2 separate regions of the Homo sapiens genome follow, and region 1 is linked to region 2. Evidence: fine-mapped expression QTL. A gene starts in region 2. The other region holds a variant in brackets. All regions are shown on one strand. Distances are from middle to middle.

Evidence for each region. PIP is the estimated chance that this variant, and not a neighbour inherited with it, causes the effect.
Region 1: its variant is fine-mapped to the expression of BEGAIN in transverse colon (GTEx, PIP 0.98). The same link has a PIP of 0.9 or more in aorta and unexposed skin.

What each region holds. Positions count from the first base shown.
Region 1 is chr14:100,539,309-100,551,087 of GRCh38, forward strand. It overlaps BEGAIN (brain enriched guanylate kinase associated), which reads right to left. Exons shown (of 7, transcript NM_001385089.1): 3 at 7,193-7,354; 4 at 5,692-5,758; 5 at 4,550-4,657; 6 at 1,188-1,271; 7 at 1-7. LOC124903382 (a long non-coding RNA gene) reads left to right here. Exons shown (of 2, transcript XR_007064334.1): 2 at 822-3,635. Among named protein-coding and RNA genes, the nearest start is that of BEGAIN, 42 kb to the right of the region's middle. RefSeq lists an enhancer at 7,621-7,750. The variant A/G (reference allele first, on the strand shown) is at 6,968.
Region 2 is chr14:100,582,133-100,593,911 of GRCh38, forward strand. It overlaps BEGAIN (brain enriched guanylate kinase associated), which reads right to left and starts at 5,285. Exons shown (of 7, transcript NM_001385089.1): 1 at 5,117-5,285. The coding sequence starts at 5,158.

The sequences.
Region 1 (11,779 bases), 43 kb before region 2:
AGGGCAGCTGGAACGGGTGCGAGGAGGGGGACGGCGGGTACAGGGTCACTGTTAGCATGGCAGCCCAGCCCTGGCCCTGAAGCTGAGGACTGATGTTAGCCATGACCGACAGGCAGACAGACGAACGGGGGCCTCCCGGCTTCTCAAATCACACCAGGGGGAGCCTGGATCCAGGACGCTGTACTGAACAAGCTCCCAGGGGTGTGGGTGCTGTGACTGCCTGGGGATCCTGGGTCACCTCTCCCCACCCCACTCTGATTGGGCCCAGGAGAGCCCAGAAGCTGCAGTCGCCTGGAGAAGCCGGAACCCAGGTCTGATTCAGGCCCCACTCAAGGCTCCACCCCCCGCCACCCCCACCCCACCCATTTTGTGCCCAGCGAGGGGTTGACTTGCTCTCCCAGGCCCGTGGGTTCTGTGGGTTCTACTGGGGGCATGACCCACTCCCCAGCCCCCCAGTCATGCTGCTGGAGCGCTCCTGAAGAAGACAGACTCAGATGCAACAAAGATTGAGGGCCAGGGCTGAGAGCGCCTGGTGCCATGTGGGGGTGTCCCGCTACTGTTTGATCTATTTTGTGAGTGTCTCAGGCATGGCCCAGGACCAGGGGAAAGGAACGCACAGGCCTGGCTGGGAGATTGCATGTGAGGGGAGGGTCGGGGGACGGGGTGCGCAGGGTGCGGCGACCATAGGCGGGCAGGGGTGGGCCTCTGGCCCATCTGCCCTTGGCATCAGACAGGCCTGGTTCTGGGTCCTGGCTCTGCTACCTGCCTGCCACGTGGCCTCAGCCACGCCCTCTTTCCTGAATGTTTTCTTTCTGAAATAGGCACTGCCGGTCATCGTGCCCAGCCACAGGCTCCTGCGAAGCTCCACAAAGGTCACTCTGCCGTGTCAGCGCTCAGTGGAAGCAAGGACCTGGAGCAGCCCCCCAAAGGAAACCGAGGGCAACCAGCAGCCGGGGTGGGCCAAAGGGACTCTGGTGAGGGCCAGGGGCTGCCCGGCTGCGTGAGGTGGGGTGCCTTTGGCGGCCCCTCCAATGTCATGACCCCACAGGAGCGAGGGGGACAGAGGAGGCTCAGGCTCAGCTGGCATCTTCCTCCTCAAAGATGGGAAATGGCTTTGGGGTAGCACTGGCACAAAAGGAGCCCGGTGGTCCCGGGGCGGGGTGGGCCTGGCTGCGGGGCCACGTTACCTCAGACACCTTGTGGACCCTGCCGTAGGTCTGGCTGCACTGCAGCAGCTGGGCCGCTAGATTGCAGTCCTTCCTATAGAGCTCCTAAAAGACAAGAGAAGGCGTTTGGCGCCATTCACCCCAGCCAAGGCCCCGCCGCCCTGACCAGCGCCAAGTGGCCAGCGGGGGCAGTGGTGTGCACAGGGCCTGCTGTGCGCTCAGCAGGACAAGGACCCACTGCTGGCTCCGGCCCTCTCTGGCCTCCACACTCTTGCCTGCAAAATGAGAGCCTCTTTCTGACCTGGGGCTGCCGGAGCATGGAGGGCCCTGCCGCTGCCCTAGCTGGTGCCCTTGAGCACTGCCAAGATGGGAACCTCCCACAAGGTGGGGGGCAGTGGTAGAAGAAGGAGCCCCAATGGCCCTGAGCTCCCCCAGGCTCGTAGAGCAGGCCTGGTCTCCCTGTCCCTGTCCCTCAGGCTCTCGGCGTCCTTCCAAAGATGACGGGGTGGGAGTGCCAGGCAGGAATGGGAGGCAGGATGAACCCCCAGCACCTTCCACCCCGCACTTCAGACTTGCTGCTCACAACCCTCTTCCCAGAGTGTGGTTTGGAAACAGTGTGGCTGCAGGGCTGGGCAGGGACTGGGCAGGTGTGTGACCTCAGGCCCAGGCGGGCGCTGGCTCAGCCTCCTGAGCTGAAAACAGATGCAAACAGTAGGACTCAAGGGGTGTGGCTTCGCCACTGAAAATCTCTGTTGCATGTGCCTGTGTTTGGGGCTTGCATTCCCGCCCCTCCGGGGTCCCCACTGCGAGGGCTCTGACAGCTAGCCCTGGGGTGGCCCGGAGGCCCAGTGACCCACCTGAGCTGCCCCATGGCTGCTCCTGGCAAGGGCTGGCCACAGTCCCAACCCAGCCAGCACCAGGCATCCTGCTGTCCAGGCAAGGCTGTCTCTGACACAGGCACCTTTCTGTCCCCCCACCACGGCCCTGGAGCCTCCCTCACTGAAGGCTGGTGCCCCCAACTTGGCCTACACGGTGGAGGGCGTCGGAGTCGCCAAACCCCTCTCAGTGCCTCCCTGGGCCTCCTAGGAACAGAACAGCACGGCTGCCTGAGAGCTGAGAACTGACCCCTTGTATGACCCCAGTCGACCGGCTGCCCCTGGCACCAGAGGGCTGCAGGCACTGCCCAGCCAGCCCAGGTCTGCCACTGAGCCCCACCAGCCACAGCCAGGAGTGGCTGCCACTGGGAAGCCGGTGCCATGCCCATAGCCCCTGGGGCACCTGGCTGAGTACCCAAGCCCCTGGGCTGTCCATGTCTGAGGTGGCCAGCTCTGGGACAGCTGGGAGCCTTTCCTGAGCAGCCGCAGCTGCTGGCTCGGGGAGGAAATGCTCACGGGACACTCTGGCAGAGCGAACAGGTGGAGGCAAGCACTCTGGCCACCCAGGGCCCGGGGCTGCTGGAGTCGGAGTCCCGAGGTTGAGTTCTGGCTCCGTCTGCGAGACACCACCTGGGTCACCTGGGAAACCACTCAAGCTGGCCATGCCTTAGTTTCCTCATGTGCACCAACCCTGCAGAGAGGGCCCCAGGACTAGTGTCCACTTAGGTAAGGGGCCTGGCCTTGTCACGTTAAGAAGCACCTCCTGTCCCGAGCCCATGTCCTCCTGTCCTCCTGTTAGAGCCACACTCCTTAGAAGGGTGGCCTGTGTCTGGAACCACCGCTCCACTCCACCACCGACCTCCAGTTCCCCAAATCCCAATGCCTCTCCTTGGCCCTCTGACCTGGTCTCTCAGCAGCTGGCAAGCCAGCCGGCCAGGGCATTGACTGCAGCCCCCTTCTCAAGTGGTTGTTGGGCCACCATACTCGCCTGGTGTCCCCCAGCCTACTGGCCACTCCCTCCCAGGCATCCTTGCTGGTCCCTACTCCGTCCTGGGGCCTCCCTGCTTCTCATCTGCATGCTGCCTGGGCAGTCTCCGCCGGCATGCCGGCCTTCACGCTCAACTCCAGACCCGGGCCTCCTGCTGCCCTGGTGACATCTCCGCTCCAAGGGGTCCTGTGCATCTCCCACCCAGCTCCTGTCCCTCCCCAGCTGTCCCCAGCCAGGAAATGGCAGGCAACTCCTTTTGTTTGGGCTCTGAATCCTGTAGCTGGGTTGGACTCAGCTCTTCTTCTAACAACCCACATCCTAAATCTTGGTTAGTCCTGTTGATTCTATTTTCAAAACACAACCAGAATCCCAGCCCTCTGCCCAGTTCCACCGTCATCTGAGCCACCATCATCTTTTGGACTATGGTCCTGGCCTCCTCCTGATCTTCCTGCTCCTGTCCTCGTCCCTACAGCCTGTTTCCAGCATGGCAGCCACGTGAGCCCTGGGAAGCTGCACGTGCAATCACGTTGCTCCTCTGTTTTCAGAACCCTCCATGGCTCCCCACTGCACTCAGAATAAAGCCCAGGTTTCTGGGAGGAGCCTCTACAACATTGCCTCCTATGGTCTTTCTGACCTCAGACCCTGGCTCCCCCTCCCGCTGGGCGCTCCTTGGCCCCTTTGGGATCCTCCGAGTTAACCAGGTACAGCTGCACACCACGGTTGCTTCTGCCTGGAAGCAATGCTTCTCCCACGGATGTCTGCATGGCTGGCTCCTTCACTCCCTCAGGTCCTGGCACAGCAGCCCCTTCCAGAAGCACCCTCTTGAAATCTGCAGGCCCTGCAGCTGGCGACTCCCTGGTACCGTTCTTCGCTTTCTGTTTCTCTATAGCATTTCACACTTCTAACATACCCCAGAGTTTGCCCCACTCAGATGTGAACTCCACGTGGCCAGAGGTGTTTTTTTTTTTGTTTTTTTTTTTGCCTGTGTTGTTCACACCATCATCTTGGAGCCTAGTAGGGTCTGGCAAGGTAGAAGCTAATTCGTGAATGCAGAGGCAGCTGTCCAGGGTCTGTGGAGGGCAACTGGGCCCATCTCACAGGGTCCCTGAAATTAGGCCCCATGGGCAGCCACACGGCTGTGATGCAACACTGGGACTGGCCAAGGGCAGGAGTCCTGAGTGGCCATGACCCCACCTTGGGATCAGGAAGCCTTGCCTTGAATGGGATAATATGGCCCCGCATCCCCTAGCTCAAGTCCTTACAGCAGAGGGTCTGTTTAAGGACACCCTTGGCGTCCTCAATGAGACAGCACCATCTTTCCCCAACTGCAGCAGGTCCTTCTCAAAGCCCTGACCAGCCTGTCCATCCACCTGTACCCTGCACCAGCCCCTTGAGGCTGGGGCCAAAGCAGCTGAGCTCAGGACCCTTCAGAGTCAGAATGTGACTCCCAGTGCATCCTGGGAAGCCCTCGCCTAGGCCCACCGGCAGTCTTCCATGGGCCAAGTGTGTGCGGCACTCACGTTGTCCTCTGACAGCTTGTCGATGGTCACCTTGGCTTCTAGCAGATGGCTGTTGAGGGCAACAATCTCGTGGCTCAGCGCACGCTTCTCCTCCTCATAGTGCTGGCCCTGGGGGTGGGACAGTGGGAGGAGGAGGCCCGTGGTTGGCTCCTGGTGAGCCAACCCAGTCGCTCGATTGCACCCCCTGGTTTGTCCCTTGTAGCCATGAGTGACAAGACACTTAGAGGGCCAAGGGTGTGGGGTTTATGAGCACAGACAGACCCTGGTTCAATTCCTGGGTCCAACACTGCCAAGCCACACAGCCTTGGGGACGTCACTGCCTCTGAGCCTCAGTTTCTCATGTGCAACACAGAGGTGACAGCGTCCTGCCTCAGGAGCTGGGAGTGGGGACGGAGGACAGATGACTTGTGCCTGGCATAGAGCCCAGCCCACCTCACTGGACAGATTGGGAAACTGAGGCTCAGGAAAGGGCCGGTGTCCAGGCACCCAGGCAGAGCCAGGCCCAGCCCCCAGGCCTGCCACCCCCCGTCTCTGATAGCACCACAAAGGTGGGCAGGTTGTTGCTTTCAAAACCAAAATGAGCTGGTCACCAAAGTAGAAAGAAAGGAAACCTCTTCATCCTAGTGAGGGAGTGGCACCAGAAACCCACACCCTGCCCCTCTTCGACATGTCCCAGCAGTGTGTTCACAGAGAAAATGGCGACCCCACTGAGGTCACCTGCAGGTGGTGTGAGGGTCCCCACAGAGGGGTCCCCATGAGAGGCGGAGCTGGGGCTCAAACCTGCCTCTGGCTCACCCAGGGCCTGAATTCGGGCCTCCCTATCCTCCTGGGCCCAGGTCCTTGGACTGGCAGGCTGAGCTGGGGGGCCCGTTCCCAGTGTATGTCCTCCGTCCACAGCCCCTCTTACACACCCCCAGGCTGGAGTGCTCGCACCCGCCACTCAGGCAGCACAGGGCAGCCCTGGACCCAAGTACTTCCTTAGCCTGAGAGCACACACCCTGCTCCACATGTTCCATGGAGAAAGGGGTGGGACCAGCAAGACCTGTGTCCCAGCTCCTGAGTGGCCCAGGGGTGTCAGCTGGGTGGCTCCCCCCGGGAAGGAGGTGTGGGGTGGGGGAGTGGGCGCTGCGTGGCGGCCTCACCATGCGGTACAGCTTGTCCTCCAGCTCCTGGTTGATCCTCTGCAGTGCCATGTAGTTGCTCTGAATCCTGGTGCAGGAGGCAAGGGGGTCACTGCCATGCAAGGCCTGTCCCTCCCACGACCCTTATGGCCGCACAGCCTGCTGAGCAGGGTGGGGCTGAATTTGGACCTCCTGAGCTCACCCCACCAGCTTCACCCTGGTGGAATGTGTGCCCCTCTGCACACAGCAGAGAACATCCCATTAAAGCAAACTTTTGTAGAAGCCTTTCCTAGGCCAGGGCCCAGGACTGTATTTCCCCCTCCACCCCGGGACCCCCTGAAGATGGGAAGGGAAGGCTTGTTATTCACAAGAGACTCTGTCCCATCCACACGCGGAGCCAGTTTACTCACATTTGACCCACAATTCTTACAAACCTGTTATGGGGTTGACAGTTCAAATGCAAATGAGCAGGGAAGAAACTTAACACTAACTATGTGATGGGCCCCAGGGTGAGGCTGGAGACATCACAGTGAACAAGACTCGGTTCTGCCGGGTAGGAGGAGTGGAGCTGAGTGTCAGGTGGGAATCAGGTGCTTGGAGATTCCATTGCTGGTGGGAGGGGGCTTGGGGATGGTGTCCAGCCTCAGACAACCTATGTGTCGTGTTATGGCCCCTGTCTTGCCAATAGGGAAACTGAGGTGAAACTTTAATTACTTAAAGCAGTAACTGGCAGGGCCCAGATTTTAACTGAGGTCTGACTGCACTGCCCAAGCTTGGTTTCCACATGAATGGAGGGTGACATTCAAAACACTCAGGAGCTGGGGCTGTTCGGAGAGGGACAAACCCTCTCCCTATGGCAAGTCCTCCCTAGGGGCAACACCAGCCGATTCTCTACAAATACCTAAAACAAATCAAGCCAACAGCAAAGGTTGCATGCTTCTTGCATTTTCTGTTTAAGAAGATGAGAAAGTGCATATTACATTTCAGAAAAACATCCATTTTAAATGTGCACAAGAAAACTGCTTTTAGAAAAGTTTGGTGTTTGAGGGAGTCCAGCACAACTGGATCGACACTTCATTAGCCCGTACGCGCTCAAGGGAAGGGTCCCTAAACTGGTTCATCTCCGGGCTAGACACAGCTTTTCCCATCAGGACCCAGGGAACCATGGCTGGGCCCCGGGTGGACCAGTCTGGGTCTGGAGATCTGCTGGGTTCAAATCCTGGCTCAGCTGCTCCATAGTGTGACTTTGGAGGAAGAGCTTCCCCTACCAGAACCTCTGGACTCCCCATCTGAGTGG[A/G]GTCAACAGCCAGGGTGAGAGGGGAGCACCGCGTGCGGCTTTCCGGGCCTCGGGCCCTGCCCCACCCCGGCCCTCGCCCCGCCCCGGCCCTCGCCCCGCCCCGGCCCTCGCCCCGCCCCGGCCCTCGCCCCGCCCCGGCCCTCGCCCCGCCCCGGCCCTCGCCCCGCCCCGGCCCTCGCCCCGCCCCGGCCCTCGCCCCGCCCCGGCCCTCGCCCCGCCCCTCACCTGCGCAGCTTCTCCGTGACCTTCTCCAGTTCCTCCTGCGCGCGCCGCAGCTCGATCTCCAGGTAGTGGCGCGTGGAGTCGAACTCGGTCTCGAGCTTCTCGAGCTTGTGTGTGGTGTAGGACAGCCGCTTGCGCAGCTCGCCCTTCTGCTCCTGCAGCGCGCTGCAACGACATGGCGGCGGCGGGCCGGGCCGCGGCGCTGAGCGGGGGAAACTAAGGCCCGCAGGCCAGCCGGGGCGTGCCGCACTAACACGCGAGTACCGGCGCGCGCGCGCGCGCGCACACACACACACACACACACACACACACACACTCACACACACCCAGCCTCCCGGGCGTCACTGAAGACCATGGCGCCCCAGAGTCAGGGACTCTGACCCTGAGCCAGTCTGGCCTGGGCGGTTCCTCAGACTCCACCAGTGTCCCTCACACAGGTAAATCCCAGGTGGTGGCTGGAGGAGTCTTTGACCCCAGAACCTGGCCAGTGTGTTGGGGGCGGTTTAAAGGACCCAGGTACAAAGAGCACCCATCAGCACCCAGGCTATCACAGAGCTGGCCCTGGGTGGCACAGGTGACTGGGGCCCTCACTCCTGCTCCTCCACAGTGCTAGGTTGGGATGGCTGAGGCCCAGAGTCAGCAGTGCCATGCCCAAGACCAGACCTGCTTTCCCCAAAATGGCTGTGTGGCCCTGGGACCCTGGGTCACTTCTCTGGGCCAGAGAGATGTTTGGTGGCAATGTCCCATGCCCGGGCAGTGTCTGCCACCATGGCCAATGAGGCTGCATGCAGCACGGGAAACCTGGCAAGGTCCTGGCCTGCTCAAGTTCCCCTTCCTCCAGGAAGCCTTCCAGAAACCCAGACAATTCTTGAGGCTCTATTTTCTTCCCCCAGAATGGGGTCTCCTGGAGGGTAGGACCCCAGGATGCAGAGCCCCACATGCTCAGGAAACAGAGACCCACTATGACCCACTCTTCCGAGCCACCTGCCAACAATTCACCTGAACTAAAGCTGTGCAAAGGCAGGAGGGTAGTGTGGGGGCCTCCAACAGGGATGGCTCGGAGCTCCCCAAGGCAGGGGCTGCACTTCCGGTTGTCTGGGTCAGAGTGGGGTCAGCAGCCAGCAGTTCTTTCCTTGCAATGGGTGCACAGCCCAGGGGCTATCTGGGACCAACATCTTTTGGATTGTGTTGCTGTGAGATGGGGACGGGACAGGCAGAAGTCCCGGGTGTCATGAAGGAAACTTGAGGTGTGGGAGAGGGCCTGGAACCCTGACTCTGCCCAGATGTGCTGTGGGACCTTGGGCAAAAGCCCGCGTTCTTGTGATATTCCCGACCCAAACCCAAGCGAGGGGAGTAGAGGGCAGGCAGGAGGCTCCCAGTCCCCCTGGGGCCACCACTGTCCCCCAGCCCCGAGCAGAGGCATCTTCTGTCTGGGCCCCGTGAGTAAACCGCATGTGGCACTGCGGGCACACACCCAGCAAGCCTCCAGGAAGCACTCTTGGATTCCTGCCCAGGGCTATATTTTTAAAAACAAATAAAAATAAAGCGTCGCTTACGTTTTTGAGAACCTCAGAGAAGGGCAGGGCGGGTCTTCCCAAGAGTCAGTCACCACAAGAGGAAGTAGAGTAACAAGCAAAGAGGGAAGCCCTGAGGCAAAGTGCCACAGCTGCCCACGTGGGTCTGCCTCCGGGAGCGCTCTCTGGGACAGTGCTCAGGCCTCCTTCCACCTCCTCCAGGCAGCCTTCCGTGGCTGCCCCACTTCTAGCACTCTATAGCTACAGGTCCCAGGCTGCTTCCCACACAGACCTGTCCTCCCCAGGGAGGTGGTGAACTTCCTGGGGACTCCTATGCCATCCTGGGCTCCTAGGGCAGGCACAATGGGCTGCACAGCAGCCCCTGAAGTCGACTGTTCCCTGCAGGGGCTCCTGGTGTACCCACAGCCCTCGGGAAGAGGTGAGGGCGTCATCCATCCACCCACGTGGCCACCTCAGCCCCGAGTCCTCACCCCTTCTCCAGCCACACCCCAGGCCTCACTGAGCAGCCTTAGGTCCTTGCTATTCTGAGACCTGCACCCCTAGCTCACTGTGCCCCCTCACCCAGCCCTGCCCCTTCTGGGCACCCTGAGGTCCCTACCCTCACCTCTCAGAGCAAGCAACCTGTCTGAGACCTCACAGCCAGGAGTAAGACAAACCCTGCCCCTGCCCCGGGAGCCTGCGGTCCAGAGGGGAGGCAGACAATGAGCTAGGCAGGGATTCTCCACGGGGCAGGTGTGGGAGGGGAGGACGAAGGGGCTATGGGGTGGGCTCGGGGCAGACATCTCACAAGTCAGGCAGCTTCACAGAGCCTCAGTTTACCCCTGGCCTTTGGATGGCCTTCCAGATACAGCAGTCAACTCCCTGTTCCACCAGCCCTTAAATACTGCTCCCCCTCCCCAAGTCCTTCACACCCAACCACCTGCTACACCCAACCAATCTTTGGGCTAGCAGTGCCCCCAGCCCCTGACTCTCACACCCCTCTCTGCCTCAGTGTCCGCTTGCTGCAGGCATCGGGCCATGGACACGCACCCCGTCCCCAGGCATAGCTGATGCCCCGCACTTGGCCGCCCCAGGGTTCCTGCCACGTCTTTCCCCACCTCTGCTGGTCCGGCGATCACACCACAGGCCCCTCCCGACCTCGCCCGGGCTGTTCCCTGGGGCCCCGGTTTGCACCTGCACCCCTGCCCTGCATGCTCAGACCAAATCCCCTCCAAGCCAGCTGCACAGGGACCCCTCCCAGGTTTCCATCTGACTCCAGCGGGGTGTCTGTCAGGCTCCATACCCTCACCACGTCCAGCCACCCACCTATGGCCCTCAGGCATCTCCACACCCAACCCGTCCAATGCAGCCACATCCACCACACCTTCACTGCCCTCCACGTTCCCCACCCGGGGGGTGGGCATGGTGACCCCTCTTTACCCCTCACAGCCCTGTCACTAAGTCCTGGGGGTTCAGCTTCTCACACCTCTGAACGTGTCCCCTCTGCCCAGTCCAGGCTGTGTACCTAGGGTCTGCGGTCACCCGGGTAGTACCTCCTTCCCTGTCCAGTGTTCCCCACACCGGGCAATAACCCGAGCCCTGCCACGGCAGCCTGTCTCCACATCTGCAGAACTGGATGGTGCACCCAGACACGGGGGCAGGGCTGTTGCTGGTCCACATTCTACATAGTAGCACCCTCCACACAGTGGACAATGTCAAGAGGTGGCACTGTGTGGGGTGGGGCCACCAGGCCACTGGGAATCTGGGGGAAACTGCTGGAGGCCTGTGGCTCAGAGGCCTCTGTCCCCTGCCCTGGGTGAAAAGGTGTCCTGGCAAGGGCCGAGATGGGTCAGGGAGTCCCCAGCGTCTGGAAACAGCTCCTTAGCAGACATACAGGGAGGGCTGTGGTGCTCCGAGCGCCAGGGCCACGCCCTCCAGGCTGGGGCCACCCTTCCAGGCCTGGGGGCCTGGGGGGCCCTGCTGGGCTTGCTGCCTGGTGAGTTACACCAGAATCTGGGGCTAACCGGCAGTGTGTGTGCACGTGTGCGTGTGTGTGGTGTGCGTGTGCGTGCGCACGTGATTCTTGGCTCCCTCCTTGCCTGTGGGAATTCCCTGGACTGGGGTGAGTGCCCAGCTCCCCTGGCACATGGTGGGGCCTCGAGGGATCTCCCTTCTGCCTTCCACCGAGAGCCCCTTCTGGCCACTTGCAGGGGGTCCAAGCCCAAGGAAGGAGCCCTTGGCTGGGATGCTGGGCTGAGGGCTGTGAGGCTGTGCCGCCGGCCCACGCCTTCACCTTCACCTTCTGGGCCTCTGCATCTGTCTCGGGGAGTTGGACACAGACACGGGACAGATGTCTGGGGACAGACGCAGAGACACCAGGGAGCCGGGGGAGACAACAGGTATGTTACCTGTCCCAGATGGAGGGCGAGGACCTGGCCAGCCGGCCCTGCAGTACTCGGGGCTGCCCGAGGCACAAGGGCACCCAGGGGCTGCGCAGCCTGTGGGCAAAGAGGACAGAGCTGCTCAGAACAGGCCGGGGTGGGCAGGGCTGGGGGCCATGCGTGGCCCACCATCAGGGGCACAGCCACAGCCCCTTGGCTGAGACCGAGAGAGATGGGGAGTTGGTCCCCACCCCCTGCCAGGAAAACTTGTCATCTGCAAAGTAGCAGGGGTTGGGGATGTGGGTACCAGAGAAGGGGGCCCAGCCTTGCACCTGCCAGCCCTCACTCCTCACTCTGAAGGGTCCCAGCTCAGCGGTGGCACTGAGTCCCACCATGGCAGGGTCACTGGTCACTCGCTCAGTGCCTCTTTTGAGCATCCTGTCCCATCACTGGGCGGGGGGCGCAGCAGCAGCCCCTGAAGTCAGTTGTTCCCTGCAGAGCGGCAGGTCTACCCTCAGCCCTGCCTCACAGGACACAGGTGGGGTCTGGTCCATTGTCTCAACCTCAGAGGGGAGTGATGGGTGCAAGCTCCCCCTCCCTACTAGCTCTGCATCTGTCGGGTGCCTGCCTGTTGCAGGGCTGGGTTCCTGGCGTGCAGGATTGGCGGGTCAGGAGGAGGCCCTGATGGCTGCTGT
Region 2 (11,779 bases):
TTTCCTTTCTTTCTTTTTTCTCTTTTGTTTTTGAGACAGGTCTCGCTCTGCTGCCAGGCTAGAGTGCAGTGGCGCGATCTCGGCTCACTGCAACCTCTGACTCCCCGGTTTAAGCGATTCTCCTGCCTCAGCCTCCCAAGTAGCTGGGATTACAGGCACGCACCACCATGCCCAGCTAATTTTTGTATTTTTAGTAGAGATGGGGTTTCTCCATGTTGGCCGGGATGGTCTTGATCTCCTGACCTCGTGATCGGCCCACCTCGGCCTCCCAAAGTGCTGGGATTACAGGCGTGAGCCACCGCGCCCAGTCAGAAGTGTCTATTATTATTCCCCTTTTGCAGTTGAGGACACTGAGGCTCTGGGAATCCGCACACTTGTGCTCCTAATCACCTGCCCCGCTGTCCCTGGATTTTCCACGCTGGCCTCAGAATCTCCAAGGGCAGCCATGGTCTTGATGTCTCCCAGTCCCCAGCACCCAACACAGGTGCCCCAGTTCTCTTCCTCAGATAGGACATGTACACAGCTGTCCAGGTCTTCCAGGGAGATCCCTGGGCAAGGACGCCCCTGTAGGAACCCCGGCTGGCCGCTGACCTTTCGAAGAGGTCTCACTGCTTCTTCCTTATTTCCTGAGTGGGTCTTCCAGGGCAAAGCGGGCCTGGAAAGGCCAAATAGCTGTTAGTTTGGGTTGGCTTTTCTCCCACCAAAGTCAAGGTGGGGTTAAGTCTCCCTGTCTGATCAGCCCCCTCCTGACCCTGCGCCTGCGTAGTATATGTCTCTGAAGCAGAGGGACATGGGGGTCTGTGAGCAAAACACTGGCATCTGGGAAATCAAGGCATGAGTGACCTGAAGCTTCACCCATTCAACCAACCGTCCTTCACCATCCACCCCTGTGACCGCTCACCCATTTACAGGTGCCATCCACGCACCAACACATCCTTCTGTCTCTGTGTCCCTCACCCGCTGATGGGCACTCATCTGTTCACTGGTCCTCTCACTCCCGTCTCCATCTGTCCGCCTGCCCATCCCTCCATGTCTGTCCATTCCTCTGTTACTTGTGTCTCGTATCCATGCATCCATTGCTTTGTATCCATTTGTGCACTGAGCTGCCTTCTCAGGCCTCTATCCACACATCCGTCAATATACACTCATCACCTATCCATGCACTCACTCTTCCAGTGTCCATTCATTCCTCTGTCCATCATTCATGGACATGTATTCAAGTATTCATCCACCCATCCCAACATCCAGGCACTACCTGTATCCATTTATGTATCCATTCCTTCATCCATCCATCCAAAGATCCTTCCATCCATTCATCTACCAATCTTGCCTTGTGTATCAGAAGTCTCCCTCCCTCCACCCATGTATCATCCATTGATATTTTGTTCTATCAATCCAGTCCTGTATCCATATCAACTTTTCCATCTGTCCACCCACCCATCCCTATCTTGCTACTTACATCCATCAACCTCTCCTCCCGTCCATCTATCCCTCTTTCTCTCTTTCTTTCTTTCTTTTCTTTTTTTCTTTCTTTCTCTCTCTCTCTTTCGTTTTTCTTCCTTTTTTTTTTTTTTTTTGATGGAGTCTCACTCTGTTGCCCAGGGGCTGGAGTGTAGTGGCACGATCTCGGCTCACTGCAACCTCACCTCTGCCTCCTGGGTTCAAGCAATTCTCCTGTCTCAGCCTCCCAAATGGCTGGAACTACAGGTGCACACCACCACACCCACCTAATTTTTTTTGTATTTTTATAGAGACGGGGTTTCACCATATTGGTCAGGCTGGTCTTGAACTCCTGACCTCAGGTGGTCCACTCACCTTGGCCTCCCAAAGTGCTGGGATTACAGGCGTGAGCCGCTGCGCCCAGCCTATCCCTCTAGGTTTCTACCCATCCATCCGCTGCTCTATCCTGCTAGTGCTTCCCTTCCATACAGTATCATCCACCCATGCATCCCCTTCAGCATGCCTGCGTTGCTTCTCCACCTCATGCACCTCTTAATCCCAGCATGCACCCACTGTGGGATGACCAGGCTTCCATGTCTGGCTTCCCCAGGCAAAGCCCAGGCCTGACCCATCTCCATCCCTGACTTGGGCTCAGGGCTTGCTGATTGAACCAATGACTGCAATTCCCCTGCTTGGCTCAGAGCTGGGCCCTGGCTGATCCCCACCCCAGGCAGACCACAGAGGCTGCTGTACTGTCCTCCAGACTCAAGGCCTGCTGAGGCAAGGGCCACTTTTGAGTTCCCTTCCTGGCTAGAGGGGAGAGAAGAGCCCCAGCAGCTCCTGACTCCTGCCGTACTGGCCAAGGTCCATGTCTCCCAGCAAACTGTGGACTCGTGGAGGGCAAGGTCTGTGTCAGACTCACCTAAGTGACCCCAATGAGCAGTGCAGAGTGGGTGCTTAGGTACAGCATGTTAGGTGAGTGTAGAATTCACACACTTAGTCATTCATCATTCATTCATTCATTCATTCCTATAATGATTAAAGCAATAGAGACACCTCTGGCCAGCTTCTCCCACCACAGGCTACAATCTGATGCCTGCTCTCAGGCCACAGAAGTCACTCCCCTGACTGTAATGGGTGTTAAGCTTCTGATACGGAGCCCTAGAGAGGAGACAGTGAGTCAGCGGCAGAGGAGGAACCAGAACCCAGGGCTGCAGACCTCCGTCCAGGCCTCTCCACTAAGGCTAGCGACCAGCTCTGCGGCAGGAAGGGGAGTCAGAAGAGAACCATGCGGGGTGATTCTAGACCAACACGGCGAGTCCTAGGGTCACCCACCCATCTGTCCCAGGGATCCTTACCTCCCTTAGGGGGAGGAGCCACACCTCCCCACCGCCATGGCTTCCACACTCCAGCAGGACACAGCCTCTCTAAGTCTTGAGACTTGAACACTCTACACTCTCCCCATCACCTTCAGGCCTTGGGCCAGGCTCCTGTAACACACCTTGACCCCTTCATCTGTTCAGCAACTACTCAGCCCTTGGACCCCACCTCCTGGGACCCTGGGTAATGATTTGTGGACTGTGTCCAATAGCCATGGACTCATGGGCTTCAGTCAATCCCTCCCATCCATCCATCCATCCATCCATCCATCCATCCATCCCTCCCTCCCTCCCTCCCTCCCATCCATCCATCCATCCATCCCATCCATCCATCCCTCCCATCCCTCCCATCCATCCCTCCTTCCCTCCCTCCCATCCATCCCTCCCTCCCTCCCTCCCATCCATCCATCCCTCCCTCCCTCCCTCCCATCCATCCATCCCTCCCATCCATCCCTCCCTCCCTCCCATCCATCCATCCATCCATCCATCCATCCATCCATCCATCCATTCATCCATCCATCCACTCTTCAGCATCAGGAGTGCCTGCAGGAGTAGGGAAGCTCCTTCAAAGTGTTGCCGTGGAGATGATGCGTGGAAATGCTGATCCAGGGCCCAGTACATAGCAGGCGTTCCATAAATGGCAGCTATGTGGGCCAGACCCTGCGCCCAAGTCTTGGGAGAGTGGATGGAAGATCTTCCAGATTGCTTAGGGCTCATTTCCTCTCTCCAGGCCTGGGCTCTGACAGGTGTCCCCCTACTCCACCCCAGCGCATGGAAAACTCATCCTCCAGGCTGAGGTTCTAGGCAGCCCTCCCCTCCCCACTCAGCTCCCAGGTGCGAACAGCTCCAGGTTTTGACGACAAACGGAACGCGGAGCCTTGGAATCTATAAATATGAGACAAAAGCTGGGGAGGGCCCTTGGCGGCAGCGCAGCCGCCCATCGCCCAGAGCCCGTGTGCTGAGCCCGGGCAGAGCCGCATCTGCCACAGTGCTTGCTTTTCCAAGCTGCCCTGATTATAGTGAGAGTCGGGAAAATTAAGGGTTTGCAGGATGCTGCTGGGGCCCTCTCTGCCGTCTCCCCGCCCTGCGTGTCACAGATGCCAGGCAGAGCCACCCCCAACGGCCAGTTGCCCCTGCTGGCAAGACCAAGGCCAGCCTGGCAGGGCTGCACACCGCAGTTTGTTAGGGGCTTCTGCCCACAGTCCTCGTGGGAGCCTGGCCCTGGGAGTAGTGGGGGTCTCTGCTGCTCTTGGCAGGCAGAGGAACTAGGGTCCAGAGAAGGAAAAGAACCTGTCCATGGCCTCCAGAGAGCCAGAGCACTGGGGCCTCCGACGGAGCCTGGCTGTGGAGACCCCGCCCCACCCATACCCCCAGGGCCTGGACCCCCAGTCTGCACTGGCGGCCGACCTTGGCCATGCGGACTTTGCACGTGCAGTGCTCCCTATCCATCCGGCCCCGCTCCCGGGTGCCCACTCTGCTCCCATTCTGCCGGCTCAGGAGACTCCAGCGCGTCGCCCACGCTGTTCCTGCCCTGAGGAAACCACATTGGGGATGGGGTGGGGCACAGACGAGGAAGGAAACACCTCTAAACCAAGCAGGAAGCGGAAACGCTGGGGCAGAAATTCCCATCCAACGTGCTGGGGCTCAGGGAGGGTGAGCGCGCCGGCTGAGCCGCTCTGGGCGAGGCCCTGGCCTCCCTGAGCCTCAGTTTCCTCGCCTGTAAAGGGGCAGGAGGATAGTACCTGCCGCGAGGTACTGAATGGGATGGTGGTGTCCGAGGTTCGTGCGCGCCCACGCGCTGCAAACGCTCAATGAGGCGGCCCCGGGTCCAGCCTCCTTCCGGCTCCCGGGCCTTTCTCCGGCCTCCCAAGCAGGGGCTGGCCCTGCCCCCAGACGCAGGCGGGTCCAGGCCTGCCCGCACCCTCGCCACCCGCCCGGGACAGCGGCGGGTCCCCAGTCCTCCGGCCGCGCCCTTGGTCACCCGTCCCTCCTTTCCTTCCGCCGCAGGGGCGCGCGTGTCAGGGCGCAAGGACCCCGCGATAGGACCCGGGCGCTCCCGGCGGCGCGCGGAGGCTGGGCATCCCCGCCCCACCCGAGAGTGCCCAGTTCCCAGGAGACCCGGCCCGGCTCCTCCCGGGCCAGTGAAGCCTCCACGGCGGGGGCGCAGCGCGGAGGGGAGCGGGGCGGGGGGCCGGCCACCTCCCGCGCTGAGCAGGGACCGCCCCAGGCGTGGGTGGCGCCCGCCCCGCCTCCGCGCCCGCGCCCGCGCCCTGCCCTCCCGGCTCGCAGGTACTCACCGCCCGGCGCAGCCGGCCCGGCCGGCGACCGCCAGTCCACATGGCCCCAGGGCAGCCGCGCCGCTCACCGCCGCCGCCGCTACCGCCGCCCCCTCCCCTCCGAGGCCGAGCGCGCCGGGAGCCGGCGCGGCCGGGGCTCCCCCACCCCGCCCGGCTTCCCGCAGGGAGCGCCCGCCCCCCGCCCCCAGCCCGGCTCCCCGCCAGCCCCGGCCCCGCGCAGCCGCGGCTGAGCCCGCGCGTCCTCCCGGCAGCGCCCGGCCGGGGCGCAAGTGGTGGGCGCAGGGCCGGGCAGGGGCGCGGGGGTGCGGCGTGCGCGGGGGCCAGGCGAGGAATGGCAGAGGGGCAGGGAATGAATGAACCCGCGCCAGCTTGAATGGCTGAGCGCGTGAATGAATGAGTGCGGTAGAGCATGCGGGGCTGGGGGGGCGGGGGGAATGAATAAATGAGAGAACTAATGCACGGGCGCGAAGGTGAGTGACAGAGTGAATGGGCCCTTGAAACCCAGAGGCTGTCAGTAATGACCTGCCCAACCTTTTCATCGGTCCATCCATTCAATCCCTCAACATTTATTAGACACCTAGTGTGTACCAACCAGCCCTGCTGTAGGCCCCAGGGGGTACAGTAGCGAGTGAAACCAAGCTCCTGCCCTCGCAGAGTCACATTTTACAGATGAGGAAACCCTGGCTCCCAAGGGTGCCTCCTGGCCAAGCTGCCCCTTACCCTGCCCTTGCTCTGCCCGAGCCCCCAGTCGGTGGCTTCCAGGGCTTGCCTTCTCCCCAAGGAGCTCTCAGGAAGGGAAGGTGGCTTCAGGAGGACCAGTGTTGCCCCCTGCCTATCCCTCCAGTCTGAAGCATCCCACCGACCTGCCCGGTAGAGCCCAGGCTGGCCAGTCCTACCCTGGTAAAGGTGCAGCGTGAACCCTCCTCTCTCCTCCCAGAGCGGGCAAGGGGCAGCCCTGAGGGTGCCAGCTACATGAGGGTCTTCCATCCCAGCCAGCCCAGCAGCAGCCAGCGTGGGAACCCGGGGAGGAGCACTGGCAGCCAGGGAGGGTCCTGCGTGGTGGAAACAGAGCTGGCAAAGCCCGTGTGCTTCGCTCATATCCTCCCTCGGGACCTATGGGCTCATGGTTCACACATGCTTATATCATTTCCAAGTACATGGCAGATTAGAAGATGCTGCGAATGAGTACCTTGTATATTTTTGTTTTTTAATTGTGGAAAACATGGAAAACATAAAATTTACCATTTTAACCACTTTTAAAGTGTACAGTTTGGGGACACTGAGTTCCCACTGTTGAGCTGCCATCACCACCATCCTTATATGCTGTATGTTGTATGCTTTGCAGTTTCTACGCTCTCTCATTTAATCTGGGGAGTAGGTTGCTACATTCAGGCAGTGTCAGTGCTGAGAAAAGGCACTGATAGCAAGGCAAGAGGGGAAACCCAGAAAAAAAGGAGACAAGCAAAAGAACCAGCAGCTGACTGGAGCCACTTCGTGTCAAGCAAAGTCCTGTCTCTGCTCCCTCTCAGGTCCCAGGGACATGATTGGGTAACCAATGGACAGAGGGAGGCGCCTCCAAGTGCACCCCACCACAGTCAAGACAAAATGAGAGGCGGCAGCTCAGGGCGGGGCTCTCCCAGTTTGGGCGAAGCGTGGACAGACTTCGCCCAAACCGTCGCTGGTGTGCACCACGGGACCAGCCTCTTTGCTCAAGGGGGCCTTAGTCTCCCCAGCAGGAGTAGGGACAGGCTCCCTGACCTCCACTCTGGCCTCTCAGGTTCAGACACCATTCAGGCAGCACACAGCAGTGGAGGCATCCTGTGAGAGGTAGTGAGGCCCAGCCTGCCAGCTCCAGTGTCCCTTCCCTCCCCAGTCCCTAAGGGGACAAACACCAATGGGGGATGTGGAACCTGGGGTACAGGCAGGGCTCTGCCCACATTGCCTCCTCCTGGGCTGCGGCCCTTCCCCAGAGGCTGGTCCTGCTCAGATGGTGCCAGAATGTTCACCGCCCGCCCTGGCACTGCTGCTGCCAACGCCACAGATGGCTGGGGAGGCGGGGGAGGGGCGGGTGGGGTGGGGGCGGCTCCTGCTTCAGCTCCAGCAGCTTGCAGGCTTCAGCTCAGGCCTGCCTGGGAAGGCCCCAGGAGAGCCCCTCCCCCATGCTGCACGCACCTCCCGTCCCCACCCTCCCTGCCCTCTCTTCTATCCTTCCCACTCCAGCCCCCTTAAGCTAGGAAGGCGGAGAGAAAGCAGGCATTGGTTGTGGGTCTGGGAGCATCCCTGCAATGCCCCTGTAGGGGAAGTGGTACTAGCCCCTTTTTGCAGATGGGGAAACTACAGTCAGTGCAGCAGAGCCTGGGGCATCAGGCAGGCTTCCTGGAGGAGGCAAGGTTTCAGCCGGGTTGGGAAGAAGGGATGAAAGTGGCAGGACTTCGAGGTGATGCCCTGGGGCCATGGAGGACCCTCTCCTCAGGCCCCTGCCCTCATTCAGACCTCTACGGACCACTCTGTTTGACATCACCATCCCCATGGCTCAATCTCGTTGCCCTATTTTGTTTTTTGCGTGTCTCTTACTGCGTTCCAGAGCTATCTGATCTGTCTGTTGATGTGGACATCAATCTCCCCGCTGGGATGCGTGGTCCTCTACTGTGGTCAGGGAGCAGGGCAGGAAGTGGCACCACACTGGGGCTCATGGTTAAATGTGCCAAAGAATGCATGGATGGATGGAGGTGGGGGAGATAGGAATAGCCTGGTGTGATGCCAGGCTTCTGGCCCTGGTGGCTGAGTATAAAAGAAAGGACAGCACGTCAGGGAAGTCATTGACAGTGAGGCACCCGCAGACAGCCACATACAGGGGCTCCAGCATCAGCTAGCCATGCTGACCAGTTCCCTGCCTCATCTTCCAATCCCCACCCACAAGAACAGATTGAGCAAGGGTTCTGACTATGAGCCCTAGAGAATGGGAAGGTGAGAGGTATCTTCCCACTCTCCCACAAACAACAGGTGCTCCAACTGAAACTCTGGAGTCCCCTGCAGAATCGGGCTACAGCTGCCCTCCACAGGTGGTGAGAAGGCCCTGAATTGGCCCAAGTGTGTATCTAACAATGACCCCAACTGCAATATTAACCCAAATTCCAACCTATATCAAATGCTAAACCTAACTCTAATGGGACCCAAAACCAAAGCAAACTTTAACCCTACCCCAATGCTAGCCTGAACAGTAACATGAACCCTAAACCCGACTCTAACCCCAACACTGTCCTGCCAGAAAGCAATAACCTCAACCCACACCACACGCTAAAGTTAACCCAGACGCCAACCCAAAACCAAATCCCAAAAGGAACATTAAACCAAACCCCAACCCAGCCCTAACCCTAACACTAAACACTGCCAAAAACACCCCAAGCACTAGCCCAAATCCTAACCATAATCCCAACCCCAAACCTAAGCCTAATCCCAACCTGACCCTAACCCTAATCCCAAACCAAATCCTAACCCTAATCCTAACCCCAGCCCTAACCCTAACCGTACCCCGCTGCCCTGTTCCTTCACCTGCTTGTCCTGGGAGCAACGATGAGGGGGGCCTGGGACCGTAGGAAGCGGGCACAGGCAGCTGGGAGCCTCGTAGGTGCTCTGTCCGAGGCAGGTCCCAGGCCCAGGGGTCTGGCCCACTGCTCCTCCTGGGGTGGTGCTGTGAGCCCCTTGGCCTCCACCCCACTGCCTGCCCTGCTCTGTCTCCATGGGAAGCAGCAGTGGCCTCCTCCCTGGGCCTCTGCCCCTGTCAGGCCTTTCCAGCAGGTGGAGGTGGTTTGGATGCTGTGGCTTGGGCTTCAAAACTGTAAATAGGGGAAACCATTTTCAAACAAATATTTGTCAAGCAAAATCCCATCTCATCTCAGTGTGACTGGGCTTATCTCTTTATGCCCTGGGCCTGGGTACGGAGGGCACCATCCTGGGCCTCCCATGCTTGAGCCTGGGCAAGGGGAGCGGACACAGAGCAGGGGATGGCACCGAGGTGGCCTCACTAAGACAGAAACTGCCACTGGGTGTGCGTGCTGCTGCGAACAGTCAGCAGGGGTTCACCAAGGCCACCTGGGGGTCTGGGCTCCTTCAGGGGCCCACCTGCTAGGTCCTGGGCCAGGCTCGGCCCTGCTGCTGCTGTGGTGCCCTCCCCAGCCAGGCTGAGCTCCGGCTACATCATCCCTGTCCATACCTTCTGTTTCCGGGTCCTTGCACAGGGAGTTCCCTCATCCTGAGATGCCCTTCTGTGGAGTGTCCATGTGGAAACCTCCTCATCTCAGCTCCCAAAGTTGCTTCTTCTTGCAAGCTTTCCCAGATTGCTCCCAGCTAGGCCCCTCCCACCTATCCCACTGCTGATGCCCGGCAAGGCTCATAGTCAAAACCATACATCAGGCTAAAAGAGGCATCTAGCCCCTCCTTGCACACCTCAGGTGATGAGAAATTCCCCCCAAGAAGTCTCTACCGTTTAACAATGGCCCAGAAAGTTCTGAGCTACAACTGTGGCCCCACAGGGGCAGGGCTAACCCCCTCTGCCGAGGCAGGACAGTGTTTCAGGGGGTTGGAAACCACCAGCGCCCTCCCGTCTTCTCCCAGCCATTTCTCCTAGTCCCTTCTCCAGGACACGCATCAGCTCCTCCAGAGGCCCAGACTGGGGCCCCAACCCAGGTACTGTTCAATCCCAACAGCCCTGGCCGGGAGGCAGAACATGGACCCCTTCCTCGGCAGGATCTTCGCCAAGCTTGCAAGCGACAGCTACAGCAAAGGACCCCCAGGGGACATTGGCACACAATGTTCCTCAGCATGGAGCAGCCTGCCTTGCCCTTTCATCTCCTGCATTGCAGCTAGGCTTTCTGGTCTCCATTCAGGCAACCTCTCCTCCAGGAAGCCCTCCCCGATCCCTAGTTGGTGTGTTTCTCTGTGTGCCCTTGAGCTTGGTTCTGACCTCAGTGACTGTCCCTGCCCAGGGATGTCCTTCTCTGCCCCACCATGGGCCCTCCAGGCGGGACTGGCCCTCGTTCCCGGTGCCTCCCCAAACCTGCAGAGGCTTGTCGCCCAAAGCTAAGACCACTGAAGGTGCAGGCAGAGATGAGCTGAATGAATGAATGAATGAGCGAGGGATGAAGTGATCGTGGGAACACCAGAGGGCTGAACCCCAATGTGAGGGGGAGTCAGCAGGCAGGGCTGAAGAAGGTTCCCCAAGAGCCTTGGCACATGGGCTGGCCATACCAGAGCGTGGAGCCGGAGGCTGGCACCGATCAGCTCCTCTGTGGTTAATGCAGTAGGACTGCAAGGAGAACACACCTGCCTCTGCACTCTGCCCCACAGGTGTATGTGGCATCCGGACAGCGGCAGTGTGGCCAGTGCCCCTGGGCAGGACTCCGGGCCTGGGGGAGCCTTGCCAAGCTGGTGGAAGGAGGAGTGTCCTGCAGGGGCCTGGACTCCAGGGCAGCGAGACGGAGCCCAGACCTCTGAGAGCCTTAGGTGGCAGGAACACGGCAAGAAGCAGTGCCTGAGGTCAGGGATGGCCACAAGCCAGGCTGCCTGGAGGCTGGGCACCAACTCCTGCTGTGCTCGCCTGACACTGCCCTGAGTGGTATGGATTGGAGGTGGAGACCAAGGCAATGTGGAGTTGGGATGCTGGCCTGAAAGATGGAAGCCGAGGGTGCCCAGAGCCCGGCAGGCCCCCACATCCCCCGTTCCCAGCCAAGAAACTCCCTCCTCCTTCTGGGGAGTCCCTGTAGTCTCCTGCCTGGCCCTGTCTCTGAAACCTGCCTTGTGTCTGTTCCAGTATCCTCTCACCCTGCCCCTCCTCTGCTCAAGAACCTGCCATGATTCTCACCTGCCTGCCTGCCGCATCCCATCCAGGCACTCAAGGCCTTCCATGGGCTCACTGGTGTCTCTGATGTGACTCATCCTCTTGGCAGATGCTGAGGCTCTCCTGCTCCCTCACTCCCCTTGCAGGCTGCCCTCCACCCCGACCACCCACAGGCACACACACTCAGCCTCCTTTCCCCTTGTCCCTGCTCAAAACAGGAGGCAACATTCCCATAAAAAAAGAGGCTCCATCGGGTCTGGTGCCTCACGCCTGTAATCCTAGCACTTTGGGTAGCCGAGGTGGGAGGATCACTTGAACCCAGGAGTTCGAGACCAGCCTGATCAACATAGGGAGGCGCCATCTCTACAAAAAGTAAAAATTAAAAAATTAGCCTGGCATGGTAGCGGGTGCCTGTGGGCCCAGCTACTGAGGAGGCTGAGGTGGGAGGATCACTTGAGCCTGGGAGGTCAAGACTTCAGAGAATTGTGATTACACACTGCGCTCCAGGCTGGGTGACAGAGAAAGACCCTGTCTCTTATGCACTCCAGGCTGGGTGACAGCGCACGACCCTGTCTCTTAAAAAAAGGAAGAAAAAAAGAGACTCATGTGATCCAGGGCCCCTGGAATGGTGGGGGGAGGAGCTCGTTCTGTGCAACCCCACCTCTGTCCAGACCACCATTTCTTGGCCCAGAAGACGCACCTGTCTTCGCTACTCCATCCTTTAATGGGCCCACATGCGCTCCTCCCAGCCTCACGGTGGCTCCTCGAGGGTATTCCCGCATCTGCTGCTCTTCTAGCTCCTACACAGGACAGTGCCAGTCAAGGCA